5 separate regions of the Homo sapiens genome follow, and regions 2, 3, 4 and 5 are each reported to be linked to region 1. Evidence: microRNA targets listed by miRTarBase, many of them from high-throughput screens and not tested one by one. Region 1 holds a microRNA gene; each other region holds the end of a gene's coding sequence.

The links. Region 1 holds the annotated microRNA hsa-miR-5699-5p (UGCCCCAACAAGGAAGGACAAG, at 2,142-2,163, shown strand). A microRNA usually pairs through its seed, bases 2 to 8, with sites in the 3' UTR of a target mRNA and lowers its output. Matches are read on the target gene's strand: a 7mer-m8 pairs with bases 2 to 8, a 7mer-A1 pairs with bases 2 to 7 and ends in A, and an 8mer does both.
Region 2: the mRNA of CEACAM19 is a reported target of hsa-miR-5699-5p. Seed matches in the 3' UTR shown: 7mer-A1 at 4,686-4,692.
Region 3: the mRNA of EFNA1 is a reported target of hsa-miR-5699-5p. Seed matches in the 3' UTR shown: 7mer-m8 at 583-589 and 7mer-A1 at 1,070-1,076.
Region 4: the mRNA of NHLRC4 is a reported target of hsa-miR-5699-5p. Seed matches in the 3' UTR shown: 7mer-m8 at 2,174-2,180 and 7mer-A1 at 2,324-2,330.
Region 5: the mRNA of NUP205 is a reported target of hsa-miR-5699-5p. The part of its 3' UTR that is shown has no 7-base or 8-base seed match.

The regions. Positions count from the first base shown.
Region 1 is chr10:637,734-643,910 of GRCh38, reverse strand. It overlaps MIR5699 (microRNA 5699), which reads left to right and starts at 2,133; the gene lies at 2,133-2,222. The region is part of intron 1 of DIP2C (disco interacting protein 2 homolog C); the gene reads left to right. It overlaps LOC124902361, which reads left to right. Exons shown (of 1, transcript XM_047426106.1): 1 at 1-6,177. RefSeq lists an enhancer at 3,283-4,189.
Region 2 is chr19:44,682,146-44,688,322 of GRCh38, reverse strand. It overlaps CEACAM19 (CEA cell adhesion molecule 19), which reads right to left. Exons shown (of 8, transcript NM_001127893.3): 7 at 5,703-5,756; 8 at 3,968-4,886. The coding sequence ends at 4,833. LOC107985306 (a long non-coding RNA gene) reads right to left here and starts at 3,285. Exons shown (of 3, transcript XR_007067268.1): 1 at 2,093-3,285; 2 at 307-1,480; 3 at 1-91. RefSeq lists an enhancer at 2,932-3,226.
Region 3 is chr1:155,133,554-155,137,553 of GRCh38, forward strand. It overlaps EFNA1 (ephrin A1), which reads left to right. Exons shown (of 5, transcript NM_004428.3): 3 at 1-15; 4 at 177-227; 5 at 402-1,346. The coding sequence ends at 514. It overlaps SLC50A1 (solute carrier family 50 member 1), which reads left to right and starts at 2,299. Exons shown (of 6, transcript NM_018845.4): 1 at 2,299-2,438; 2 at 2,746-2,823; 3 at 3,275-3,398. The coding sequence starts at 2,359. RefSeq lists an enhancer at 1,740-1,829 and a silencer at 2,100-2,339.
Region 4 is chr16:566,579-572,755 of GRCh38, forward strand. NHLRC4 (NHL repeat containing 4) reads left to right here and starts at 427. Exons shown (of 2, transcript NM_001301159.2): 1 at 427-497; 2 at 893-2,917. The coding sequence starts at 1,470. The coding sequence ends at 1,841. It overlaps PIGQ (phosphatidylinositol glycan anchor biosynthesis class Q), which reads left to right and starts at 3,390. Exons shown (of 11, transcript NM_004204.5): 1 at 3,390-3,518. RefSeq lists enhancers at 1-753, 702-751, 4,337-5,231 and silencers at 3,257-3,416, 3,487-3,706.
Region 5 is chr7:135,646,848-135,653,024 of GRCh38, reverse strand. It overlaps NUP205 (nucleoporin 205), which reads right to left. Exons shown (of 43, transcript NM_015135.3): 43 at 4,272-4,621. The coding sequence ends at 4,469. It also overlaps the pseudogene LOC124901801 and the pseudogene LOC101027084. Among named protein-coding and RNA genes, the nearest start is that of STMP1, 13 kb to the left of the region's middle.

The sequences.
Region 1 (6,177 bases):
TTTTCCTTAAATACACCCTCATACGTCTGTGAAGTTCTTCCCAATTCTGTAACTTCACTCCACCCTCAGGTGGAACATTTGTGAACAGTAACAAGTATTGATGTGTGCAACTCTGCAACCCAGCTGGAATTAATGCTTTTTATTTATCAATGGATGGTCATTGGATGGCCAGAGGGATTCCCTGTGCATTGTGGGGGCCCAGTGCCTGCTTGTGAGTGACATGGACATAACGAGGGTTAGGGAATCTCAGCCTCTGTGATTCGAGTAGTGACATCAAGGCAGGTGGATGACTCTTTGAGCTTGGCATGCTCCTGGGTGGCACAGCACAGGTGACGTGGACTGGGGCAAGGGCTTGTTCCACGGGCTTCTGTGTTGTTTTTTGTTTTTGTTTTTTTTTGAGATGGAGTCTCACTCTGTCACCCAGGCTGGAGTGCAGTGGTGCGATCTCAGTTCACTGCAGGCTCCGCCTCCCGGGTTCGTGCCATTCTCCTGCCTCAGCCTCCCCAGTAGCTGGGACTATAGGTACCCGCCACCACGCCTGGCTAATTTTTTTGTATTTTTAGTAGAGACGGGGTTTTACCGTGTTAGCCAGGATGGTCTCGATCTCTGACATCATGATCCACCCGCCTTGGCCTCCCAAAGTGCTGGGATTACAGGCCTGAGCCACCGTGCCCGGCCTGTTTTTTTTTTTTTGAGACGGAGTCTCACTCTGTTGCCCAGGCTGGAGTGCAGTGGCGCGATCTTGGGTCACTGCAACCTCCACTCACTGCAATCTCTGCCTCCCGGTTCAAGCCGTTGTCCTGCCTCAGCCCCCAAGTAGCTGGGATTACAGACATGTGCCACCATGCCTGGCTGATTTTTGTATTTTTAGTAGAGACGGGATTTTGCCATGTTGGTCTGGCTGGTCTTAAACTGTTGGCCTCAAGTGATCTGCCCACCTTGGCCTCCCAAAGTGCTGAGATTACAGGTGTGGGCCACCGTGCCCGGCCCTGTGTTTGATTCTTAAATCTTCTTTTTCTTTTTAATCTTTCTCTTTCTGGAGGACCACTCAGTGGATATGAGGAAGAGTTCACAGATGTCCATATTACATTCCTTTCTTAAATTAGCCTCCCTTGAACACTGCTGTAGGGTACAGACGCATGAAGGGCTGAAAGGGTGGTTGTGTCCCAGTAAGTGTGAGAGTGGAGCTGGTCTGTGAGACCCCGGTGCCGGTGAGGGCACCCGTGTGCGATGGCCTGGGACGGGGGTGTGCGGAGCCCTGACCGTGGCACACGCCCTTCAGCTTTGATGTTTCAGGCCCTTGCTCTGGTCATCAGTGAGCAGAAGGTCTAACAGCAGTGATATTTATCACTAGTTGTGTTGGCCAATGTGTTAGGAGGGTGAAGCTGTTTGACTTAAGCTGCTTGATTGGTTTGCATTTAAATAGACACCTGGTGGCCTGGTGCCTGGACACTTGCTCTGTGACCTGCCCCGTGTGGCTCCTCCCTCTGGCATGCATTAGATGAGATGGGCGTGTTTAGGGCGATGTGGCCCTAGACTGGAATGCATTCGAAGTGCAAACCCTGCCCCACCCCAGACCTGCCCCACCCCAGTGTGACGTTAGGAGGCGGAGGCCCAGCATCCTTCACCTGCCCTCCAGGTGGGTCTGAGGATGCTGAGGTTTCAGAGCACTGCTTTGCTAGCACACCAGCGAGTCCTGCTTAAAGAGGCCAGGATCTGAAAGGGCAGGTTACCAAATTGTGTAGCAGAAAAATAGAAATGTTTCCTTAGAAGGGGTGTAGGAAGGAAAATAATTTCCTTCATCATATCTGGAAAAGATTTCAAATTAGTAGGCACTATTTGGAATTATTAGTGGTCTCCTGTATTTCTTTCTTTCTTTCCTTTTTTTGATACAGGGTCTCGCCCTGTTGCCCAGGCTGGAGTGCAGTGGTGCAATCTTGGCTCCCTGCAACCTCTGCCTCCTGGGCTCAGGTGATCCTCCCACCTCAGCCCCCTGAGTAGCTGGGACTACAGGCGCGCTACCACACCTGGCTCATTTTTGTATTTTTTTTTGTAGAGATGGGGTCTTGCTATGTTGCCCAGGCTGGTCTCGAATTCCAGCATTTCTTCTGCCTCAGCCCCCCAAAATGCTTCTGTACCCCTGCCCCAACAAGGAAGGACAAGAGGTGTGAGCCACACACACGCCTGGCCTCCTGTCTTTCCTTGTTGGAGCAGGGATGTAGAAGCACTTGCCGCAGCCGACTTGAGTACATCTGACTTTACTTAGCTTTCCTCATGGGTAGCCTGGCAGTGCTGTGCACCAGTGCTGCTGGCCAGCTGTTTTTTCAATGTACTGGCAGAAAATCAAGCTGACACCCGGGTTCCTTTCTCCCTGGGTACTGACCAGGTGGGAGAGGAGGGGCGTTGTGTGAGTATCATCTTCATGAGGGCTGGTGGGGGAACATCAGCTTTAAGGTGCCTGGGATCTAAGGCATGGAACCCAGCAGTGCAGAGGAACGTAGGGGATGTAGCCTCGGGAGCAGAGATGTGCGGGCCGGTGCCCTCGTTCCTGGCGGGGTCTGAGTGCAGGAATAGGTTGGTGACCCAGCCGAGGTCACAAGACCTGCCTGGATGCATGGCTGGCGTCCGTGCTGGCCCCAAAACTGCCCATTTGGGGATTCCCCTCAGTCACAGACTCACCTAGGGGTCCGGAGAGCGTCCCCACTATGACCTCAAAGAACGAGGTGTTGCCTTGAGATCTTCCAAGGTGAGGGTAGGATTTTTTTTTTTTTGCAATTAGCAATAATTTGTTGTGAATGATCTTGGACCTATTTTCCACTTCTTTGTATAGGAAGAGAGACAGAATAAAAAGTCTCAATGTGCCAGATGCCATGTAATGAAGCCATGGGGTTAACGTTGTTGATTATTACGTAGCATCACGTTAATTGGAACATATTCACACGTGTCCACAGCGTGTGCGTGTGCCCAGTCCGATGAGCACGTTGGGTTAGGGTCGCTGCTGGTTCATGCAGCCCCTCTGGGTGGGGCTGTCTCTGTGGCTTGGCCAACACCCTTGCTGCTGCCACTGTTGGAGTCTCCAGCCTTGACCGGCCTTGCTGCCCCCAGGTTCTCGGAGCCTGCGCACCCTCTTCCCGGCGCCCACCCTCTTCCCGGCGCCCACCCTCTTCCCGGCGCCCACCCTCTTCCCCGCGCGCAGCCTCTTCCCCGCGCGCAGCCTCTTCCCCGCGCGCACCCTCATCCCCGCGCGCACCCTCTTCCCCGCGCGCACCCTCATCCCCGCGCGCAGCTTCTTCCCCGCGCGCACCCTCGTCCCGGCACGCACCCTCGTCCCCCGTCGCGTCTACCCGGGGTCTGTCGTGTGTTTCTACTCTGGCCATGCCCGCCTCTTGCTGTGAGCTAAGTTTATTGAGGTGCAGTAAGAAACCAACAGAGGGGAGCAGAGTCCGAGGCTGTCAGGGCGCAAGGGAGCCTTGGGCATCTCTTCCCCAGCTCTGGCGACCCACCCTTCGGGTTGAAGTGCAGGGGAGAGGTGAGTTCTAAAGGTAAGGCTGCGGTGATTTCCTGAGCCTTAATTATCTAACACTTGGCCATCTGCCGTGTGACCCCATCGAAGGGCACCTCTGGGGACAAAGCAAAGCCCTTGGTGGCCGTGGGCGGGGCGGCCGTGCCTGTCTGTGTGTCCTGCACCGGGAGCCCCGCCAGCCGTGGGGACGTTCAGGCACTTGCCACCTGTGGGAGGTGTGTGTTAGCCGCGTGGTAGGTGCGGATGCGTGGAGGGACAGGCACAGGCCCACAGGCGTGGCGGGTATGGGAGATTTAGCCGCGTGGAGATGCGTGGAGGGACATGCACAGGCCCACATGCGTGGCGGGTGTGGGAGATTTAGCCGCGTGGGGATGCGTGGAGGGACATGCACAGGCCCACAGGCGTGGCGGGTGTGGGAGAAAGCGCGCAGAGTGCCCAGCAGATGCCGCGTGGTCAGCGGAAGCCTTGGATACAGGCCGGGCGGGGGAGGGACATCTGGAAATACGCTTTAAGCAGCATCAATGGATAATGCTGTGATTTTCCTTCTTTTCGTGGTCCAAAACACGTTCTAGTGATGTCGCTGATTTGTGTGTACCTGGGACAAGGAACTAAATATATTAGGGCCTTGATGTAATCTGTAAAACAGGCACAATATGCCTATTTCAAAGAGGCAGTGGACATGAAAGACTGCTCTAAACTATTCAGTGCAATGAGAATGCTTCGTTGTCATTAGCAAAGTAAAATGCCTCCAAGGCGAGCTTGCCATGCGTTTAATGACCTTGGACGTGAGCTTCCTAAACCTGCCAGAAAGTGCTTCCAGCGTGGCTTCATGCAGTGGCTTCAGTGGAGAATGTGCATATGCGGCTGATACTGAGAGCCGGGCAGCACCCTGACAGCCTGACACATCCCCATGTGTGGACCGTGAGCCGGGCAGCACCCTCCCAACCTGACGCGTCCCCATGTGTGGACCGTGAGCCGGACAGCACTCTCCCGACCTGACACATCCCCATGTGTGGACCGTGAGCCGGGCAGCACCCTCCCGACCTGACACATCCCCACGTGTGGACCGTGAGCCGGGCAGCACCCTCCCGACCTGACGCGTCCCCACGTGTGGACCGTGAGCCGGGCAGCACCCCCCGACCTGACGCGTCCCCATGTGTGGACCGTGAGCCGGGCAGCACCCTGATGGCCTGACGCGTCCACATGTGTGGACCGGGAGCCGGGCAGCACCCTCCCGACCTGACGCGTCCCCATGTGTGGACTGTGAGCCGGGCAGCATCCTCCCGACCTGACGGGTCCCCTTGTGCCCATTGTGGGACCTCCATCATGCAGGCAGGTGACATGCATCAAACTGAATGCAAGGAGGAGGGTCCAGGATTGTGTGCGGGCTCCGTGTCTCGTCCTTCTGAGGCCTTCTGGGAAGCCAGGAGGGCAGTGGGGTCTTTTGTGTGTTTCCTCCTGGTGGCCGTGGGTTTGTAGAAATGGCTTTTTGCAAAAGGGCCCGGAGGCGGAATTAGAGCCTGTCCTGGAAAGGATGATGCCTTCGCGGGCACCTCTTTCCATTACTCCAGTGCTCCCGTGATTTTAAATATGTGCACCCTGCAGACTTCAGCCTTCTAGTGTCCTGGGTGAATAAATGCCAGGATTGCTCCAATGCTGGCAAACCTGAAACAGGAATTTCTCTGCATTAAGTTTGTCACCAAAATGGGAGGTAAGGGGAGAGGGGAAGGAACTTCTTGGCCTCGTCAGCCCTTTTCTTGAAACTCACAGTCAAACTTTGTCAAGTTCTAGGTGATAGTGCTTGAGGCGATGCACTTATTTATGTTATGTCTTGTTTTCTGAGTACGGTGCTTCGAGAATTTAAATATTTAGGTGAAATTGCCATGCACAGTTGAATTGGCACCATAATTTGACTCTCTGTAAAGCCTTTTGGTTTCCTGTTAGAGTGACCATTTTTTGAGTCAACTGAAGCAAACCCTGCTGTCAGCACGAAGGAGCCACTTTATAGTTAGGAGATCAAATTAAATAGAATTCTCCTAAATAGAGCGTGCTCTTTTCATAAATTTTAAAAATTCATTTATTCATCAAACACATACTGAGTACTTATCACCCTGGTTGCTAGTTACTGTTCATATATGTTTTTAAGGAATTACTTCCACCTAGCTCTGAAATAACATTGCATTTAGAATTTAGCCCAGAGGTGATTAAGCATGAGCTTTTCACAGCAGTCCTGTTTTCATTTTTACTTGAGAACATGTTCTCAGACTCGGTGCCCAGCTGACGTTACCTGTGCATTGCCCGAGGCACACACCTGGCCGGGGCTGTGTCTCGGGGGCTTCAGAAGAGGAAGGAAGGGCTGCCAGGCATCTGGCCCTTCCACGTTTCCCTGGTGGAGGGATTAGGCCTTGGGCAGGAGTCTTGGCTTGTCTTAATGGATGAGCTTGTGTCTCTCAGTCAGCTCTGCCTTGGTGTTAAGCTCTGGACTGACTCTGACCTCTGAGTGGCAGAGGAGAGGACGGTGATTTAGAATCAGTCATGCAGACCAGGGCACTCAGCGGGTCTTGGGTAAAAAGTGGTGGCAATCGATTGCTTGCCCTTTTGGGAGAACTGTGTGGATTGACTCCTCTGAAGACCTCTTTGTTTTGATTTTATCT
Region 2 (6,177 bases), not on the chromosome of region 1:
CACCTGTGATGTCAGCTACTCGGGAGGCTGAGGCAGGAGAATCGCTTGAACCCGGGAGGCGGAGGTTGCAGTGAGCCGAGATCATGCCAGCCTGGGTGAAAGAGCAAGACTCCATCTCAAAAAACAAAACAAAACAAAAGAAAACAAACAAACAAAACATTGAGAACATCCTATCACCCCTAAGAGAAAGCTTGTATCCATGAGCAGTCACTTCCCCATTCCGCCCTTCCTCCCAACCCAACAACTACTACATCCACTTTCTGTCTTGATGAATTGCCTGGGCATTTCATAGCAATGGGACCCTACCATATGGAGTCCTTTGCGTCTGGCTTCTTTCACTTAGCACAGCGTTTTCAGGGTCATCCTTGCTGCAGTATGTGTCAGGGCTTCATTTCTTTTCATGGCTGAATAATGTTCCACTGGATAATACAGCCATGCGTCACTTCATGATGAGGATATGTTCTGAGAAATGAGTCTTTAGGCGATTTCATTGTTGTGTGAACATCACAGAATGTGTTTACACAAACCTAGATGGTAGAGCCCGCTACACATCTAGGGTATAGGTACAGGCTATTGCTCCTAGGTGACAAACTTGCATAGCCTGTGGCTACATTGAAAACTGTAGGCAATTGTAGCACAATGATAAATATTCGTGTACCTAAACATAGAAAAGATACAGTAAAAATACCGTGCCGGGCGCGGTGGCTCACGCTTGTAATCCCAGCACTTTGGGAGGCCGAGTTGGGCGGATCACGAGGTCAGGCGATCGAGACCATCCTGGCTAATACAGTGAAACCCCATCTCTACTAAAAATACAAAAACTTAGCCAAGCGTGGTGGTGGGCGCCTGTAGTCCCAGCTACTCCGGAGGCTGAGGAAGGAGAATGGCTTGAACCCAGGAGGTGGAGGTTGCAGTGAGCCAAGATTGCGCCATTGCACTCCAGTCTGGGCAGCAGAGTAAGACTGTCTCAAAAACAAAAACAAAACAAAACAAATAAACAAAAGAACTCATTCGTCTGTTCATGGGCATTTGGGTTATTTCTACCTTTTGGCTATTGTGAATAATGCTGCTGTGAACAGTCACACAGAAGTGTTTGTGTGGCCATGTCTTGATTTCTTTTGCAAACCTGGCCCTGTCGCAGTGTGTACAACACCCCTGCTCCCCACCCTCCCATTGCTCGAAGCAGTCACCCAAGAGTTGACCCTCTCCAGCACCTCTTAAGCATGCCCGTTCCAGTAGGTTCTTAGCACCTGCTCCATTCCTTCACAGCATCGTCATCCCTGACATTATGTTCCATGTGCTTTGTTTTTCTGTGGCCTGTCTCCCACTAGAAGGTCAGCTCTCCAAAAGCAGCCATCACTGTCTCATTCATGGCTGTCTCCCCAGAACCTAGAATAGGGCTGTCCACAACAGATGCTCAATAAATCTTCATTGAATTGATGAACAAACCAATTATTGGCACACTCTTCTCTCCAATCCCCTGTATCCAAACCAGAAACAAATTCTGTCAATGTTTTGTTCTAGAGTGTTGCTCTGTTGCCCAGGCTGGAGTGCAGTGGCATGACCTCGGCTGAATGCAACCTCTGCCTCCCGGATTCAAGCGATTCTCCTGTCTCAACCTACCACCACTCCCGGCTAATTTTTGTATTTTTAGTAGAGACTGTATTTCAGCATGTTGGCCAGGCTGGCCTTGAACTCCTACCTCAAGTAATCCGTCTGCCTTGGTCTCCCAAAGTTCTGGGATTATAGGCGTCTGCCACCATGGATTTCAGTCCTCCTGTCTGCAGAGCCAGGAGTTTGAGACCAGCCTGGCCAGCATGGTGAAACTTGTCTCTACTGAAAATACAAAAAAAAAAAAAAAAGTAGCCGGGTGAGGTGGTGTGCACCTGTAGTTCAGCTACTTGGTAGGCTGAGGCAGGAGAATTGCTTGAGCCTGGGAGGCGTAGGTTGTAGTGAGCTGAGATCGCACCACTGCACTCCAGCCTCGGCGACAGAGCAAGACTCAAAAAAGAAAAGTCTCAAAAAAGAAAAAAAAAAAAAGAGAGAGAAAAGATGGAATCCCCTCACACTCCTAGCCCTGAGCCCTGGCTACCTGGCTGGCTTGGTTGACCCTCTTAGCAAGGCGGTCAAAGGCCCAGGCATTTGGTGTCTGGAGCGGTCTGAGGATGGAGAAGTCTCCCAGAGAGTATTTGCATACTGAGTCAGCATGAGACGCAACTTCTCCTTCTGTGATTTCTTCCTCATCCTCTAGATTAGTTTCCCATTTCCTGTAAAAAATTGCCACAAATTTAGTGGCTTAAAACAACACAAGTTTGTTATCTTATAGTTCTGGAGGTCAAGAATCCAAAATGGGTCTCACTGCACTAAAGCCAAGGTTTCAGCGGGACTGTGTTGCTTTCTGGAGGTTGTAGGAAGAAAATCCATTTTCTTGCCTTTCCTCAATTCTGATTTTTTTTTTTTTTTTAAGACAGAGTCTCGCTCTGTCACCCAGGCTGGAGTGCAATGGTGCAACCTTGGCTCACTGCAACCTCCGCCTCCTGGGTTCAAGCGATTCTCCTGCCTCTGCCTCTCCAGTAGCTGGCATTACAGGCACCCGCCACCACGCCTGGCTAATTTTTCTATGTTTGGTAGAGACGGGGTTTCCCCATCTTGGCCAGGCTGATTCTTGAACTCCTGACCTCAGGTGATCCCCCTGTCTCGGCCTCCCAAAGTGCTGGGATTCCAGGCATGAGCCACCACCCTCGGTTCTGTTTTTTTTTTTTTTTTTTTTTGTAGAGACGGGGTCTTGCTATGTTGCCCAGGCTGGTCTCCAACTCCTGGCCTCAAGCGATCCTCCCACCTTGGCCTCCCAAAGTGCTGGGACTGCAGGCGTGAGCCACTGAGCTTGGCCCTCCTCCAGCTTCTAGAAGTTTCTTGCATTCCTTAGCTCAAGGCCCCCTTCCGTCTTCAACACTCACGATGGCCCATGGACTCTCTCACACTCAATCATTCTGACTCTGAAGTGCTGCTTGACTTTCAGCTCCTTCTCCCGTCTTCAAAGGGCTTTGCTTCCTTTGTTGTCACAGCCCCTCTGACTCACGCTTCCTGTGTCCTTCTCGATTATAAGGATCTGTGTGATTACATAAAGAGCCTGCCAGGGCAATCCAGGATAATCTCCCCAAAGCACGATCCTGAACTTAATCATGGCTGCATTCTTTTGTCATATAACGTAACATTCACAGGGGATTAGGATGTAGACGTCACTGGGGGGCCGTTATTCGCCTTTCACAGCACCCTGCCCCTCAAAGCCACAGTCTCGGCAGTGCCTTACCTGGCCCTGCGCCATGTGCCCCTCCGTCCATCTCCTGACGTCAACTTCCACCCACCTTTTCCTCCTTCCCCACCCTCTCCACCACACTGGCCTCCTTGCTGCTCCTTTTTTTTTTTTTTTTTTGAGGTGGAGTCTTGCTCTGTCACCCAGGCTGGAGTGCAGGGGCACGATCTTGGCCCACTGCAAACTCCGCCTCCCGGGTTCAAGTGATTTTCCTGCCTCAGCCTCCCCAGTTGCTGGGATTACAGGTGCCCACCACCATGCCCGGCTAATTTTTGTATTTTTAATAGAGAAGGGGTTTCACCATGTTGGCCAGGCTGGTCTTGAACCCCTGACCTCAAATGATCTGCTTGCCTTGGCTTCCCAAAGTGCTGGGATTATAGGTGTGAGCCACCATGCCCAGCCCCCTTGCTGCTCCTTGAATATGCCAGGCATGCTTCTGCCCCAGGGCCTTTGCACTGGCTATTCCCTCTGTCTGGAATGCTCTTCCTCCAGAGCCCCACATGGCTCCTTTCTTCCCCTCCTACAAGTCTTTGCTCATTTGTCACCTTCTCAGCGAGGACCTCTGTGCCCTAATTAAAAATCTCAGTCCCCCAATACTCTCGACCCCCCTCCATTTCCCCAATACACTTATCCCCATCTGACAGACAACGCATGTTCATTATTTATTTTATTTCCTGATTCTTTCCCCTGCCAAGTGACCCTCTGGGAAAGCGGGAGTTTTTGTTTTGCTTTCTACCAGGGCTGCAAGAGCCTAGAACTGGGTCTGGCATACAGCAAAGGCTCATTTATTGCTGAATGAATGCATAGTTTGGGGAAGGGGAGGACAAGCTGAGGCCACATTTGGGACGGGTGCTGGGGTGGGGTGGAGAAGGGAGCTGCTGCCCAGAGGGACTCAGTAAGATTCAGGGTGGGGGCCAAGACCAGCAGCTGGCAGCAGGTTCTGAGAGGGGCTGGGCCTGCCTGAACAGGGAAGGGGTCCAGCAGCCGTGGTCACCTTGCTGGGACTGGTGTGTGGGGCCACAGGCCTGTGAGGCTGGGCCTCTCTGCCACCTGAGGCCCGCATGGTGGGGTGTCTGCCTTGTCCTAAGGGGAGAAGACTCTGAGGGTCACTAGTGGAGTTGGGGTAGGGCATTGAGGACAGACAGTTGGGAGCCCAGCCAACTGCCTGGGAGGCAGGCCTGAGGCCACCATCTTGTCCCCAGATATCCAGATCTTGGGGGACTTTGGCATGGAAAGGGGCCAGAGCCTGCCTTTCACAGGCACATGGCCCAGGCCAGCTTGCTTGAAGGAACAGACCGAAGGCGGGCGTGCATTCACGGGCTGCACAAGGACCTGGGCCTGTTACAGTCTCCTGTCCCCCTGCCAGGACACCTGCCCCATGTGCTGCTGAGTCTTTGGCTGAGTCCACCTCATCGGCCCCACAGCCCCCAATGGCCTTGTCCTGCTGGTCTCAGGTGTGAGGCTCCCAGAGGAGGGCTGGGGCCTTGTCTTCTCCCTGGCTGGCCTGGCCCAGGACCCATCAGGAAGTTGGCACCAGCTGGCAGTAGGGGGCAGGGTCGGGGTTTAGCAGGTCCTGCTTGGGGGGAAGAGAGAACAGAATTATGACTGGGTGGAGGGGGAGAGTCTTGGGGAGACAGAGAGGGACAGAGGATGAGAGACAGCGTGAGATGGAGAGAAACCCGCAGAGAGAATGGAAGAGCAAGGTGGAAAGAGAGTGAGATGCAGAGACAAGAGGTCCTGGAAGAGCCAAGAAATGAGGTGGACACAGTGACAGAGACAAAGAGGCAGGAGAGACAGAGAATGGAGAGAGAGAGAGACAGAGATGCAGAGAAACGAAGACATGTAAAGAGATGCATCTTAGACAAGGCAGCATGAACAAACTGGAAACAGAAAGACAGATTAAAAAGGACACAGCAAGAGAAACTGAGAGAGAGAGAGAGAGAGAGAGAGAGAGTCCAAGAAAGGGGAAGACAGACATACAGACATATGTAGGCCACTGAGAGAGAGAGACAGAACTACAGGGACAGACAGCTGACAGGAGGGGATGGAGAGGGACTGAGCTCTGCGGTGGGGTTTCACTGGGGACCTGACTGGCTGTGTGGCCCCAGGCAATCCCCTGTCCCTCTCTGGGCCTTGTTCCTCCTGTGCAAGTTCAAGGTTTTGGATCCCTTTTGCAAAGAAGGAAATTGCAGCCTTGGGAGGAAAAGGGACTTGCCAGGGTCTCTCAGGGAGGCGGTTTGGGCTTCTTCGAGAGCAGAGACCGTGAGGCTTGGGGGGACGAGGGGAGGAAAGCCCCCAGTTTCAGTTGTCTTGACCCCTCCCCACCCCGGCTTCGGGGCTCCTGGATCCGTGGGATCCCCACCACCCCTCCCAGCTCCCAGCTCCATACCTGGTACTGGTGGTTCTCTGGCTCCGCCTGCAGGTGTGGGGGTGTGGGCAGGGGCTGCAAGGGAAGGACACGGGTGAGTGGGCGCTCGGCACCCCCCACCCTCTAAACTTTGACCTTTGGTGCTAGGACAGTCTCAGATTCCAAGTCCCCATCACCCCTCCCAGACTGTGAGGCCCCTGGGCAGAGGGGATTAGCTTCCTTACACCTCAGTGTTCTCCTCTGACAAATGGGCACTGGGCCCCAGCTTCGTGTGGTATCCAGTGGCCCGTCAACCACTCCATTAACTCTCAGTCTACCCCTGTCAACACCTCTGGTTCTAAGCTCTTAGCCTTAGTGTTTTATGTTTCTCTTATTTTTCACTTTTTTAGAAAAAGACAGGATCTTGCTCTGTCACCCAGGCCAGAGTGCAGTTGTGCAATCACCACTCGCTGCAGCCTCAAACTCCTGGGCTCAAGTGATCCTCCCTCCTCAGCCT
Region 3 (4,000 bases), not on the chromosome of region 1:
TCAGTGGCAAAATCAGTGAGTGTCAGAGCCCTGTGGGCCTCCTTCCTCCATCTCTATGCTGGGTGCGGTCTAGTGATCTAGGATGGTATAGAAGTCTTGCAGCCCAGCCCACTCATACTTACAGCCCTCTGCCTCTTTGATACAGTACCTGATCTACTACCACTCTTGTCTTTCAGCTCACAGTCCTCAGGCCCATGACAATCCACAGGAGAAGAGACTTGCAGCAGGTGGGTAGCTGGAGCAAACTGGGCCTGGGGCACAGGAAGGGGTCTGCTTGAAGAGGTTGGGTACAGGAGGTGGCTCCTTTACCAGGCTGAGGCTGAGGGAATCCTGTTGGGCTGAGAGCCAGTACAAATAGTGGAGCCACTCACACTGGTGGCCTTTGCCCTCTCACCTTGCAGATGACCCAGAGGTGCGGGTTCTACATAGCATCGGTCACAGTGCTGCCCCACGCCTCTTCCCACTTGCCTGGACTGTGCTGCTCCTTCCACTTCTGCTGCTGCAAACCCCGTGAAGGTGTATGCCACACCTGGCCTTAAAGAGGGACAGGCTGAAGAGAGGGACAGGCACTCCAAACCTGTCTTGGGGCCACTTTCAGAGCCCCCAGCCCTGGGAACCACTCCCACCACAGGCATAAGCTATCACCTAGCAGCCTCAAAACGGGTCAGTATTAAGGTTTTCAACCGGAAGGAGGCCAACCAGCCCGACAGTGCCATCCCCACCTTCACCTCGGAGGGATGGAGAAAGAAGTGGAGACAGTCCTTTCCCACCATTCCTGCCTTTAAGCCAAAGAAACAAGCTGTGCAGGCATGGTCCCTTAAGGCACAGTGGGAGCTGAGCTGGAAGGGGCCACGTGGATGGGCAAAGCTTGTCAAAGATGCCCCCTCCAGGAGAGAGCCAGGATGCCCAGATGAACTGACTGAAGGAAAAGCAAGAAACAGTTTCTTGCTTGGAAGCCAGGTACAGGAGAGGCAGCATGCTTGGGCTGACCCAGCATCTCCCAGCAAGACCTCATCTGTGGAGCTGCCACAGAGAAGTTTGTAGCCAGGTACTGCATTCTCTCCCATCCTGGGGCAGCACTCCCCAGAGCTGTGCCAGCAGGGGGGCTGTGCCAACCTGTTCTTAGAGTGTAGCTGTAAGGGCAGTGCCCATGTGTACATTCTGCCTAGAGTGTAGCCTAAAGGGCAGGGCCCACGTGTATAGTATCTGTATATAAGTTGCTGTGTGTCTGTCCTGATTTCTACAACTGGAGTTTTTTTATACAATGTTCTTTGTCTCAAAATAAAGCAATGTGTTTTTTCGGACATGCTTTTCTGCCACTCCATATTAAAACATATGACCATTGAGTCCCTGCTAAGTGCGAGGCTCTCTGTGCTACAACAGTAGCAACTGGGTTTGAATTTCTTTCTCTCCAAAGAATGTGTGCCCCTCACGAGGCCAAAAGGGTGGGATGTTTCCTCCTCTGAGGGCTGTCCAGGACCGGAGTGCTCCTGACAGCTGTCTCTCGGGTTCTGAGCTGCACTCCACTCTGGAAGTTCTTCCTATCCGACCTCTACCCCACTCCCACTCCGTCACCGCAGGGCTTTGGCATACTACCATTCAGGTACTCACGCTGTTTCGGTGAGTCAGGGAAGCTGGGAACGCCAGCTGAGGCATGCGGCCCCGCCCCACAGCCACACTAGCAGAGACGTGTGGGAGGCTGGGAGGGAAAGTTCCCAGTAACAAGTGGGTTGGACCGGGGGTCAGTGATAGAGGCGTCAGTGGATTGGCCACGTCATGTAAAGTTGACCCGAGAGGGAGGGCAAAAGAGGAAGGCTTGGTGATTCCTGGTAATGTGTTATTTTGAGAAAAAGCTTCGGCAGCACACTCCAGAAAAAAACTTCCCAAACCCTGGGCAACTGAGGTTCTGATGTGGAGCTCTGGATGGAAAGCGTGCTGAAGTCTTGTTAAACTAGCAAGCTTTTGTTTGGAGGTCCACCGCCGAAGGCGCACAGGCCTGTGGGAACACGAGCGTTGAGACTGGGGGCGTCTAGATGATCCAAGGGGTAGGCAGAGTGTGAGCAGCGGCAGGTATCGGGGACACACCCGCGGAGCCCTAGGAAGGGGACTGACCGGGACATGGAAGAGGTCTGGACCAGGGTACTGGGAAGGCGCTCGGAGGAGAGGGGCGCGAGTTCCGGTTCGGCGTCGGAGGGAGGGTGGGGCTTCGGCGCAGTTTCCGGAGGGACGGCCCGAGCGTGCGGGGGCGGAGCCGAGTGCGCGGGGCGGGGCTCCAGAGCCGCAGGTCTGGGCTGCAGTAGGTCCCGGCAACCGCAGGCTCGCGGCGGGCGCTGGGCGCGGGATCCGACTCTAGTCGTAATGGAGGCGGGCGGCTTTCTGGACTCGCTCATTTACGGAGCATGCGTGGTCTTCACCCTTGGCATGTTCTCCGCCGGCCTGTGAGAGTGCGGCCGGGCTGGGTTGGGGAGGACTAGGCAGTCAGGAAAGGAGAGAGAGGGGACAGAGACGTGGCCACAGCACCTGGCTCGTCCGGAACCGGGATCAAAGTGGGATCGGGTCGAGGGGACCGGGGTACAAGGGCGAGGCTGGTCACTAGGCCTGAAGGAGAAGGCAGGATAGCTGGCGGGGGGGAGAGGGGGCGGGGTCTGCGGTGGTCCGGAAAGGATGACAGGCATTGGGCATCCCCCTCTAGCACTCTGCTTCTCCCTTCCCACCCCCACCCCTCCCTTCGGGGCCCCATTACAGCTCGGACCTCAGGCACATGCGAATGACCCGGAGTGTGGACAACGTCCAGTTCCTGCCCTTTCTCACCACGGAAGTCAAGTGAGGGGCCGACGGCTGCGGTAGTGGGAAAGGCTACCAGAGGGAGGTGGGGGCGGGGCAGGAGGAGCAAGAGTGAAAGAGGTTTGGCCGGGCGCGGTGGCTCACGCCTGTAATCCCTGCACTTTGGGAGGCCGAGACGGGCGGATCACGAGGTCAGGAGATCCAGACCATCCTGGCTAACACGGTGAAACCCCGTCTCTACTAAAAATACAAAAAATTAGCCGGGCGTGGTGCCGGGCGCCTGTAGTCCCAGCTACTCGGGAGGCTGAGGCAGGAGAATGGCGTGAACCCAGGAGGCGGAGCTTGCAGTGAGCCGAGATCGTGCCACCGCACTCCAGCCTGGGCGACAGAGCGAGACTACGTCTCAAAAAAAAAAAAAGAGTGAAAGACCCTTTGGGTCCTCCTCTCACACTGAACCCTTTGAGCCATGTCCATCCCCTCCACCCTGCAGCAACCTGGGCTGGCTGAGTTATGGGGCTTTGAAGGGAGACGGGATCCTCATCGTCGTCAACACAGTGGGTGCTGCGCTTCAGACCCTGTATATCTTGGCATATCTGCATTACTGCCCTCGGAAGGTAGAGGCCCTCCCTTGGACCCACCTATCTGCTGCACGCCCTGCCTTGCTGGCAGGGCAAACACTATTTCCTAGAAGACTGTAACAGCTGGCACTGCCACCTTTTCCAGGAAGGCCTCTCCAGCCTTGCAGGTCCCCTTCCTCTATGAAGCCAGCCTTCTGAGATGAACACATTGCCCCCATTTAGGCAAGGCTGGTAGCTCTGCCTAGCCTGAGATGCCTATGCTGCCTGCCCTGGGCTTCAGCCAACAAGCTAAGGGGAAAGGGCTTTTGTCTCTGATATTTCTTTCAGAGCCAGGGCCTGTGGGTGAGAATGAGATGATTAGCTCTGCGTCCCTGCTAAATCACACAAGCATTTATGAAGCTCCTACTGTGTGTGCCAAGCACACAGAAAAAAACACATATTTATCTCCCCCAGAAGTCTCCAGTGTTGTGGGTGGATAAGACTTTCCTATCAAGTTGGTGGTGGGAAAGAAGCTGTGACAGTGCAGTGCTGGAGGCCTAGACAGCTTGGCTTCCCCATTGGAGCACTGGAGAAGGCAGGATGAATTAACTCTAGCAGGGAAGTCAGAGTGCACATCTGGAAGTAAGGGTACTCTCTCC
Region 4 (6,177 bases), not on the chromosome of region 1:
CAGGTGTGGAGACACGACCTCCTTCGCTGTCACCCGTGGGGAGCAGGACAGGCCTCATGGAGGGTGCCTCAGCCAGCAGGTCACCCGCCTGTGGTCCAGACCCAAGGACCCTGCTTGGGGGTGGCAGCCTGGGGCTGCCTTGCCACTTGGAGTAATGAACTTGCTGGTTGTGGGGGGACCATGGGGGACCCCTGGAGGGGGGTGGGCTGCATGGCATCTGGCCGTGTAGGGGACGTGGGAATAGTGTCCGGGCAGAGGGCGCAGCCTGCAACAAGGCGCGGAGGCAGGAACACCACAGCATGGGGAGTCCTCAGGGGACCTGGTTTTTCTTTCATAGAAGCTTCAGGGGCCAAGGCCGGAGACTGCACTCTCCCTCCTCCACCCGGCCCAGCTGCGTCCCTGCCAGTGGCTCCTCCCACTTCCTCCAGTTCTAGTTTCCAACAACAGAGGCTGCAGCCACCCAGCCCCGAAGCAGGGCCCAGCGAGACAGGGCCCAGGTAAGAGACCCCTCCCCCCGGCCTCTCTCGGTGGGGCAGGTGGAGGCCCTCGGAATAGGCTGCCTCGCCCCTAAGGGGTCAGAAGTCTCCCTGACCTAGGGGCTCGGGTAGAAGGGCTGTGTGTGGGTGACCGCCCCCCCGCCGTAGAAAGGGGTTCCACAGGCAGATGGATTTGAGAAATGTTGCTTATCTGTCTGAGGCCCATGAGCTCATCTGGGGCTCAGGGGAAAACCCACAGCGAGCTCCACGGGTCATGTGTCTCCCAGACTCAAGTCCCAGGCACCTAGACACTAGGGTGGCCGCTGGGCTTGGTGGCCAGGTAGACCCTCAGGACCAGGAGGACCCGGCCTCATAGGAAGAAACTGGAGGAGTGACTTTGCCATTCCCACACACAGTGGGGCCTTATTCTCTCTCTTGCAGCCCCAAGCGTGACCCAGCTGCAGAGAAGCTGAGACGGTGATTCGGACTGACTGGACTCTGGCCTCCAGGTGTCTGCACCTCACACTGGACCCACCTGGAGACTCCACGGGCTCCCGGCAGCTCCGGCTGCTTGGGTGGATCCGGGTGCCCGCAGGGGCTGTGGGAGGGCCCCGGGGCCTGCACTGCTCCCCCGATGGCCTGCTCTTCCTCACGGCCGGGGCTGCACCCTGTGTCCACGTGCTAGATCTGGAGGGACGCCCCATCTGCCTCCTGCCCTGCCGCACTCCGGGGAGCGGGGCCTTCGTTCCAGAGGACGTGGCTGTGACAGCGTCAGGGCTTGTGGTGGTCAGCGATCCCATCCATGGGGCTGTCCATGCACTCCAGCACACAGCCCGGGACCCCGGGGGCCACTGGGTGACAGTGGGCACCTTCCTGTCTCCCCGAGGGCTGGCTGTGGATGCCCTCAACCGCCTCCTGGTGACGGACTACTTGCCTGGGGCTGTGCACAGCTTCTCGTTGGGTCCTGCTTGGGAGCCCCTGGCCCCAGCCTCCATGCTGGGTCTGGAGGGCCCCTGCTGGGTGGGCCCAGGGCCTGATGGGGGCCTTGCTGTGAGTGAGGAGTTTGGGGATGTGAGGCTGTTTGGCAGTGCCCGCCAACCCCTGGGCTCCCTGGGGGGCTGGACGGGGCACACTTTCGGCTGCCCAGCGGGCATCTGCTCCAACTCAGAGGGCAATGTTATTGTGGCAGACGAGCAGAGGCGCCAGGTGACCCTGTTTCCCCGGGCTGGGCCACCCATCTGCCTGGTGTCAGAGGGGCTTGGGCAGCCCTTGGGAGTGGCCTGTGCACCCCAGGGCCAGCTCCTGGTGGCTGATGCCAAGGACAACTCCATCAAGGTGTACCAGGGCCTCAAGGAGCTGGCCTGACCTGAGGCTGGGTTGGAGCAGCCCTCCTGTGCCTGAGGCCAGCTCCCAGGCCCTTGGATCACCGCGGGAGGAACCCTCAGGATGGGTGGAGCCTCCAGGCTATGGGCATTGCCTGCCTGATGCCAGCACCACCTGGGCTGGGCCCTGGGCTTGGCTCGAGTTCTCCTGCTGGTGAGGCTCCGGATCTCAGGAGCAGCCCTGAGTCTGCTTCCCAGGCTGCCCCTGCCAGGCCTGCAGCCTCCCCAGCCAGGGCTGCTCTCTGCTGTCCCCATTCAGTGCCCTGGCCCCTGCATTCATGCCCCCCACACCCCCTCAGGCCCTGTGCCTGGACTTTGGGGCTGGCAGCTGAAGCCTTGAGATCCTGGGCCAGCTGCCGGCACACAGCTAGGCAGACTCTCCCACCAGGTGCCCCTGCCCAGGCCTCCTAATCGGGGGCAGACAGGCAGGGAGGGTGTGGCTGGGCTGGGCTGGGCGGGGCGGCCTGGGGCAGGGGTGTGGCCCCTAAATGTCCCCAACCTCAGAGGGACCTAGAGTCCTGAGCCTCCAGTAGCTTCTCTGGGCCTGGCAGAGGTAAGGGGGAGGCAACCCTGGAGTGTCTGGAGGCCCATGGCTGGCTGAACCCTGGATGCCTTTTCTTCCGCGTCCCCATGAATGAAAGCTGTCTGGGCCTTCATTCTGCAGACAGGGACAAACAGCTCCATGCTGTTTGTCCTCCCAGTGCAGCCGTGCTGGGAGGGTCTGGGGGAGCTTCCTACAAGGAGAGACTCCTGCTGCTTTGGAAAACTGAGAAAAAATAGGGGTCTAACCCTCTCCTCCCATTTTACAAGTGGGGAAATGAGGCGTGAAAGGAGAGGCGTCTGGGTTACTCCGTGGGTCTGGGGTCCAGGGAAGGGCCTGTATGGGGGAGGGAGCTGGGAGGGGACGGTGTCTGGCTCTACCCCTGTGGGGTGGGGAGGTGGGGCTCCCCTGTATCACAGGACATCCCCCCTGAGAGGTCCCTCATATGTCTGGGTCCTGTGGGTGGGGGACTAACTGCGCAATGTAGTTAGGTGCTCAATAAACGGAGTTGCCGCTGAGGTCTGGGCTGGGGTCTTGTTCCTGGGATCGGGAGGGGCTGGACGCCTGTGTGTTCTCTCCTGACGATCGCTGGCGGCAGCCTCTGGGCTGGTCCTACCAGGGCTCAAAATTCCCGGCACCACTGGCCTTGGGGATCTGGGGGCGGCCCCTCTGCAGACAACAGAGTGACGGGGGCGGGACCGGGCTGGGGCTGGGGCCTTCCTGGAATCCCGCAGGGCCTGGGGACCTGTTCACTTGGGGAGGCTGGGAGCCAGGCGGGGTCCGGGTTCCACGAAGGCCAGGTCCAGTCAGTTTCTCAGGTGAGGAAACCGAGCTGACGCGGGGCTGGCGGCCCGGAGGCAGGCTCGGGAGGTCCGGGCCTGGGGACTGGGCGGGCACGCTGCGCCGCGGAACGCTCGGGTCGGGCGGGCGGGCGGGCAGCCCGGGCGCCTTTGGGGGCCGGACCGTCGCGCGGCAACGCGCGGAGCCGGCGGAAGTGGGGCTCGGGTCCCGCGGCGGGGCTGGAGGCAGCGAGCGCCGTCGTCTGCCCGGGCCCGCCCATCGGGGTCCCCAACCCCATCCGGACCCCGCCGCCCGAGCGCGCGGCCCCGGAAGCACCCGGTGAGCAGGGGGGGTGGGCGGCGCGCGGCGGGACCTCGGGCAGCGCCCCTGCGGCTCCGGGCCTGGGCTGGGGGCTCCGCACTCCCGCCCGCGGCGCCGCTGCTTTCTCCTCCCAGAAGTGGGGCCGCCCCCGGGCCCGCGCCGACCTGGGCCCCTGTGGACCCTGTGCAAGGGCGGTCGGCGGCCCGGGCCTGGCTGTGGGCCCTTCGCAGTTGTCCCGGTTTGCAGGAAAGGGCAAAAAACGGAATCGTAGGCTCTTCCCAAATGAGAGGGGAAGGCCCTGCTTGAGGAAGGCAAGCAAGTTTGTTTGTTTGTTTGTTTTGAGACGGGGTCTCACCATGTTGCCCAGGCTGAACTCGTGTTTGTTTTTCATTATTTATTTATTTTGAGAGGGAGTCTCGCTCTGTCGCCCAGGCTGGAGTGCAATGGCGCGATCTCGGGTCACTGCAACCGCTGCCTCCCGGGTTCCAGCGATTCTCCTGCCTCAGCCTCCCCAGTAGCTGGGATTACAGGTGCCCACCACCACGCCCGGCTAATTTCTGTATTTTTAGTAGAGACTTGGTTTCACCCCCATCGAGGCTGGTCTTAAGCTCCTGACCTCAAGTGATCCGCCCGCCTCGGCCTCCCAAAGTGCTGGGATTACAGGCGTGAGCCACCGCGCCAGGTTGGTGTTTATTTTTCAAACAAGGCGCTGGGAAACGCAAATTCTCCAGAGCTCTTGTGGAGCGGTGGCAGGGAGGGGCGGCTCAGCCAGAGATGGCCCTGGCCCGTCCTAACTGGGCTGGGGTGCCCCCATTCCCTCATTCACGGGGAGGAGAGGGAAGTCTTAGTCTTACTACTTTATATGGTCGACCTCCCTACCTGCCTGGTCTGGGAATGGCTTCTCAAGAGCACTCGGGCTCATTCTTAGCAGAGGAAGCTCTTCTGGCTAGCCTGGCGCCCGTGTGTGTGTGTGTGTGTGTGTGTGTGTGTGTGTGTGTGTGTGTGTGTGTGTGTGTGTGTGTGTGTGTGTCTGGCTAGCCTGGTGCCCGTGTGTGTGTGTGTGTGTCTGGCTAGCCTGGCACCCGTGGCTAGCCTGGCGCCCGTGTGTGTGTGTGTGTGTGTCTGGCTAGCCTGTGTGTGTCTGGTTAGCCTGTGTGTGTGTGTGTGTGTCTGGCTAGCCTGTGTGTGTGTGTGTGGCTAGCCTGGCGCCCGTGTGTGTGTGTGTGTCTGGCTAGCCTGGCAACCATGGCTAGCCTGGTGCCCGTGTGTGTGTGTGTGTCTGGCTAGCCTGGGACCCGTGGCTAGCCTGGTGCCCGTGTGTGTGTGTCTGGCTAGCCTGTGTGTGTCTGGTTAGCCTGTGTGTGTGTGTGTGTGTTTGTGTCTGGCTAGCCTGTGTGTGTCTGGTTAGCCTGTGTGTGTGTGTGTGTGTGTGTGTGTGTGTGTCTGGCTAGCCTGGCGCCTGTGTGTGTGTGTGTCTGGCTAGCCTGGTGCCCGTGTGTGTGTGTGTGTGTGTGTGTGGCTAGCCTGGCGCCCGTGTGTGTGTGTGTGTGTGTGTGTTTCCTCAGTCTTTAAAGATGCTCACGTTGCTTTCTCCCGTCCCATACCTCCTCTGCTATCGATCGCTTCTCTTTCATCTTCCTCTGGCTGTGTGATCCCAGCAGCTGCTAGTGCAGGCTTCTTTGTGCCGCCGACCGTCCCAGAGGCTGAGGTGGGAGTGTGATGGGCGTTTGCCCCACAGTACGTTGAGTTTTCTCTCACTACTCGACAGAGAAGAGTAGCTTCTGCCCTCCCATCTCCTTCGGTAGACACAAGGCACTTTTTTTTTTTAAGGTAAACTTTGTAGATGAAGCACAAAGAATACACACAAAGAAAGCGCACAGATCGTGAGCACGTAGCTCGGTGAATTTACCCAAAGTGAGCCCACCGCAGAACCAGCTCCCCCTAGAACATCTGTTTACTGTTAGACCCATTGTGTTTCTTTTCCGACGATATCTGTGGGCAGTTTTCCTTAGTCCCTGTGAAAGCTCTTCCCCAGCAGGGCGTGATGGGTCCCTGGGCTGAGCTGGTGTGAAAGGTGGGCTGTACTGGGTGGTCCCCTATGGTGGTCACACAGCCAGACACGCTGGGCCCCTTGCAGGCAGAATCACTTTGTCCCTCTCACGATGTCCTTGGTGCCTCACGTCAGCTGGCCTCCAGGCATCCACCCGCCGCCTGCCCTCTCTGACCACTGAGGAAATGGGCATTTGAGGAGTTCTGCAGCCTGACCCAGAAGGTCCCTTTTCAGCTAGAACCCACCGCCTTGAGTGACTGGATCCTCCAGCCCCAGTGCGGGCTGCCTGCAGGGGAGGAGAGCAGCTGCACCAGGGGCCTCTTAAGCCCCAGGCATTTCCGTGTGAGGCCTCTTCCAGAGCCCCTCCAAGCTTCGGGAGAGGACTTACAGGTCACACCACCCCGACGTGTGCATCCTGCTCTGTTCCCTCGTCCCTAAGGATGTGGTGGGCTCTGAGACCTCCAGGCATCCTGGTCTGTTCCCTCATCCCTAAGGGCGTGGTGGGCTCTGAGACCTCCAGGCATCCCACTCTGTTCCCTCGTCCCTAAGGGCGTGGTGGGCACTGGGACCTCCAGGCGTCCCGCTCTGTTCCCTCGTCCCTAAGGATGTGGTGGGCACTGGGACCTC
Region 5 (6,177 bases), not on the chromosome of region 1:
CTGGGATACCGGTTTAGCACCAGGTAAATCACTCTTGGTATTTATATACAAAATCAGTTGGCTCTATTTCTTAGACATACACACAGAAAGCAAGATTTGATCATTACTTTATGAATCTGTCACTTTGCAATACCGGTATTATCAAGAAATAGGGACAACTCACTCAGATTCAAATTTCAGTAGCAGGAAATAAATATCGAAACACCATCATTGGCCCTCAGTACAAAACCTCTACATCACCCAATATTGCCCTCCCTACCCAACCCCAAAGGACCACTCCCTGGTGGCTGCGACTTCACTGCTGCCATCTCCAATACATACCACAGGTGTCATGCAGCCCTCCTTAAGGCTGGCACCGTAGGCTTAAACAATTGGCTGAGAAGCAGGAGAGAAACACGCCAAAGGTTCTGTGCTGCAAACACGACCCCTCTTTTTTTTACACCACAAACTTCTTTAAGGATCTGGTCACTCAATTGGAGGGATAAATAGCTTTTTAGAAAAAGAGAAGAAAGTCTTTAAAAAGGAGAAAGTGTAAATCTGATTACTCCAAACCAGTCATCTTTTTTTTTTTTTTTTTTTTTTTTGAGATAGAGTCTCGCTCTGTCACCCCGGCTGGAGTGCAGTGGCACAATCTCAACTCACTGCAACCTCCGCCTCCCGGGTTCAGGCGATTCCCCTGCCTCAGCCTCCTGAGTAGTTGGGACTACAGGCACGTACCACCACGCCCGGGTAACTTTTGCATTTTTCAGTAGAGACAGGGTTTTGCCATGTTGGCCAGGCTGGTTTTGAACTCCTGACCTCAGGTGATCCGCCCGCCTCTGTCTCCCAAAGTGCTGGGATTACAGGCGTGAGCCACCATGCCCGGCCCAGTCATCTTCTTAAAGTCATCTTCTTAAGAGCAGTTCACAGATTCTCAAAGTCTGTTAAACAGAGGTGAGCATGGACCTGGAGGCAGCCTGGGTGGGGCAGGTGTCCTCCAGGCATGTGCCTGGGCAGGGCTGCAGGAGCTGGTGGAGTGGGCAGGATACTGTGCTCAGAGGTCAGGCTGGCCATCTGTCCTCCACAGAAAAAGCTGCCAAGCTAGGGTGTTTTGGTCTAAAAATTCTTGGTGGAGACAGGGAATCCCTGAAGGGAACACTTTTTTTTTTTTTTAAGTTATAGTAGAAATGGGGAAGGAGGACAAGAGCTTTTTTGGGGGGGTGGGGTAGGGAGGGGGCTGGAGTGCAGTGGTGCCATCTAGGCTCACCGCAACCTCCATATCCTGGGCTCAAGCAATTATCCTGCCTCAGCCTCCGGAGTAGCCAGGATTACAGGCGTGCACCACCACGCCAGGCTAATTTTTGTAATTTTAGTAGAGACAGGGTTTCACCATGTTGGCCAGGCTGGTCTCGAACTCCTGACTTCAACTGATCTGCCCGCCTCAGCCTCCCAAAGTGCTGGGATTACAGGCGTGAGCCACTGTGCCAGGCCCCAAGAGCTTTTACATAAAAATTTAAAAAACAATTTTTAAGGGAGAAAGAGAAAAATAGTCTCTCAAATGGTTCTGAGGAAACGGAAAGGAGGATGATGGAGACAGTGTTTATTGCTGGCCTGCCCTGAGTAACTCAGCTGGCCTCCATCTGGAGTTTCTTCCTACTTCAGGCCTCTTCAGGCTCCAACTCTGAGCTGCAGTCGGAGCCCCCATCAAAGGCAGAGGTGGTGCTGCCCTTGGCATTGGTGTAGAGGATGCTGTCTGAGGAGGGATAGTTGGCCTGTGGCTGGGCACTTGACCTCCCCTTCGGTGCACGGACTTCCTCCTTCAGAAGAGCATTCTGCCGCTGAGGTCATCAATATCTCAGTGGCGTGTGGTTTTTCCCTTCGCATATGCTGGATATACTCTATGGCCTTCTCTCCTTGGAGTGTTGGGACTGCGTCCCACAAACTGGAGGCTGCCTTTGATGTGGTCCCTACGATTTCATTCCAGTGCATTATGATGGGCCCATTCGTCAGCCGCAGATTGAAATCTCTGTTGTTGCTTGTCACTCTCCACCCCGACGTCATCATTATCACTCACTTCCTACAACCCAGGGAGCAGCCACTGCAGCAGCAGTAGTCGGGGAGGCGGAGGGATAGAGGAATCTGAGGAAGTCACTGACAAGAAGCAGAGTTCCCCTGCCTACACACACACACTCACTTGCTCTCACTCACATAAAACACAGGCAAGAACCACCTCCTCACTCCTAAAATCCCAGTTCAAAATTTAGCTATATGTCTTGTCTGTTAAGAAGGCTTCATACTTCAGAAGTTTATAAAATGCTTTGATTTCACGCCTAGGCTCTTTGCTAATCATTTCTAGGTTCATACCTGTGCTCCAGATGACAGAGATAACCATATGCCTGACCAGTGGAGCACTATGCACTGTAACTACATTTTGGATCCATTTATTTATTCTTTCACATCCAGGACTTTTATTTATTAACAGAATGTTTTCCAGCTAATGTTTATATCTGGTGGGCGGTAAATTAATTACAAAATATAACACTGACAAAGCCTTTATATTTTTCTTTTTTTAAACCTGACAGCATAACTTCCTCTAAGATAAAGATGTTTTAAAGATGCTTGAAGGCCAGATGCAGTGGCTCATGCCTGTAATCCCAGCACTTTGGGAGGCTGAGGCAGGCAGATCCCTTGAGGCCAGGAGTTTGAGACCAGCCTGGCCAACATGGTGAAACCCCGTCTCTACTAAAAATACATTAGCTGGGCATGGTAGCACACGCCTGTAATCTAGCTACTCGGGAGGCGCAGGCAGGAAAGTCACTTGAGTCCGGGAGGTGGAGGTTGCAGTGAGCCACGATCATGCCACTGCACTCCAGCCTGGGTGACAGAGTAAGACCCTATCACCAAAAAAAAAAAAAAAAAAAAAACCACAAAACCCAAAAACCAACGCTTGGAAGCCATAGAAGTTTTATTGTAAGCATTTAAAAACAACAACAACAACACTAGGCTGGGCGCGGAGACTCACGCCTGTAATCCCAGCACTTTGGGAGGCCAAGGTGAGCGAATCACAAGGTCAGGAGATTGAGACCATCCTGGCCAACATGGTGAAACCCCGTGTCTACTAAAAATACAAAAATTAGCTGGGTGTGGTGGCGCACACCTGGAGTCCCAGCTACTCGGGAGGCTGAGGCAGAAGAATCGCTTGAACCTGGAAGGCAGAGGTTGTGCTGAATCGAGATCATGCCACTGTACTCCAGCCTGGTGACAGAGCAAGACTCTTTCTCAAAAACAAAACAAAAAACAAAACAAAACAAAAAAACACTATGACACTATAGAATAATTATCAATTTTATTCTATAGTGTTATAGCGTTTATTCTGTTACTAAATGAAAGCAAAGACTTCCTCTCAGCAGTCTCTCCTATGTATTAGGCTGAAGTAATTGCTGTCTGGAAAAGGAAATTTGCAGTTTCGGATGATGTAGTTACTTGAACATGAAAACAACTGGGTAAGAAATAGAGTGGTGATCATGTAAATGTTTTGTCCTAGTGATAGCCATCATATTAATTATATGAGAAATATTGGCAGATGATTAATTTGAGAAATTTCACAATCATTTCTAAGGAACAAACACAAATTACTGTAGAGTCAGCTCTCCATATCCCCACGTTCAAAATCTGCAGATTCAACCAACCACAGATCACAAATATTTGGGGGGGAAAAAACCAGTGTAACAGCAAAAAATAATACAAATTTAAAAACGTAGTATTAACCACTATTTATATAGAATTCATATTATATTAGGTATTGTAAGTAATCTAGAAATGATTTAAAGTATACAAGAAGATGTATCTATATTATATGCAAACACAATGCCATTTTATATAAGGAACATGCATGCCAAAACATAGGTTTTGGTATCCGTGGGAGCCCTAGAACCAGTAATCACCAGATACCAAGGGACAATTGTATTGTCAACTTACGTGCAGAAAAGAAAAAAACAAAAAAAAGGAAAACCTAAATAATTTTAGGAAAAAGCTTGACTTTTTCAGACATTTTCACAGTATTGAGTACACTATTCTATAAGAGCATGGCTATATTTTAGTAACCCTGAATATTGTTAATAGTGTAATGTAGCTACAAAGGGTGAAAAAATTAGAATTTTCAGACTATGCCTTTAATCTGGCATTCAGAATAATATCTCTATGGGAAAATCACCACTGTTGAAGGTTTATTTGTTAGATTCCTGATAATGCTGATCAAAAGATAAAAGATCAAAAGATTAACCATACATTTGTTTTGTTTTTTTAAAAAGTATTTATTTTTTACTAGTGAGGATGGAACTAGGGGAAGAAGTTTACAGAAAAGATGTCCATATACAAAGAAAGAAATAGCAAAATATTTTTGGTCATAATTTAGAAAGAAACTAATCTATAAAATGGAGACAATTCTCCCCAATTCATCTCTCTCATAGAAGAGCATAAGCACGGGCTCTCAGTTCCTTGATATCCTCAAGAGGCCACGGATACGTCTGACAAGAGCCTGTATGAAACTATATCGAGATCGAACTTTTGAATATAATCCTTCAATGTCCAGAAGTTTCTTTTGTAGTGATTCTCCAAAAGCGTTGATTGCATCAGCCTGAAGCTAGCGGTGACACAAAAGACATTTTGTTAAAATTGTTGTCTCAAATATTTCTTTTATTCTAAGTCTTCCAATTTAAAACACTTTAGAATTTTTGTAATGTGGTTCTTTCAATGTAAATACTTTTGAATTTTTGTAATGTGTTACTAAATTAACTAAACATTCACATTTTCTACCTTAGAATTTTTTGGTTTAATTCTCATGTTTTTCCTGCTTTCTTTTCTTGTATAAATTTAAAAACCTGCTTTAAATAGCAATGAATGTTGATGCTGATGCTGATATACTAACATACACACAAAAACATTTCCTGAAGGGCCATACAAGAAGTCAGTAAGACTGGCGGGGGAGGGAGGGAAGGAGAATGCAGGGAAGGAAGGGAGGGAGGGAGGACAGGAGGGTAGGTGGGAAAGAAGCTTTTACTTTTTACTTCATTTTGCAATTTTTAAAAACCCACTTGCATGCTTTTGTTTTCAAAAAATATTAATGTGGGGATACACCTGTTATATGCTTTAGAATTCATATATATTCTAGAATGCATATGTAGTTTCAGATGGATCTTTTTGATGTTATACTAAAAGACTAAAATTAAGTACAATATTAGATCAATCTACCTGTTTTCAGTTTTGCATTAAAATCACAACACAGAGTGTGAGATTATTTATTAATCCTGCATTTTTTTCTAGCTTTTTCACAAAGCAGTCTAAATGAAATAGTAACAGTTATTACTTCAAAATATATTTATTTTTGTTGTCCTAGCTACTCAGGATGCTGAGGCGGGAGAATCACTTGAGCCCAGGGGGTTGAGGCTGCAGTGAACTGTGGTCACACCACTGCATGCCAGCCTGGGTAATGGAGTGAGACCTTGTCTCTCAGACAAAACAAACAAACAAACAAACTTCTGAATAATCTTCTTTGGCTAATTTTGCACATGGCCTCAATTAACACTAGTTCTCCTAAACAAGCCTAGCCACAAAACGAATTCCTTTTATAAAGTCACTAAGGGGCGAATGTAGTCTGGATTGGGATGGGAGCGTGGTATTCATGATATCCAGCAAGCTGTGCTTTGGAGGCTGCTGTAACTGCACCTTTCATTCCCAACCTTGTTTTAAGAAAAATAGCAAAAAGAGGGATTTGGGAGGAGCAGAGGCTTTATCAAATCATGGCTAAGGACATTCAGATGGCTAGCAGAGGATCTAGCTGTAATTCATTTTCCCTAACATCACACACCCTGATACCTGCTTTGTTAGAAACATAACTTTGCTATTAGTTTAATATGAGGTTTTCATTGTAATTGTTTTTGGCATACTCTTCATTCATTCTAACACTACTGATCAACAGGTTAGTAAGAGCACAGTGTTGTGTACTATGGTCTATGACGGCGGGATTTGTATTGGCTGCTCTCAATCTCACCATTAAATTATTTCCTGAAAAATAAGTGCTGAGTGATACTTTGTACCTAAAAAGTTCTACAAAGCTAATCAAAAGACATCAGGAGTTTCCAGATCATAATGCCTACCAATCACGGAATGCTTACCATGTTCTAGGTACAACACTAGCAG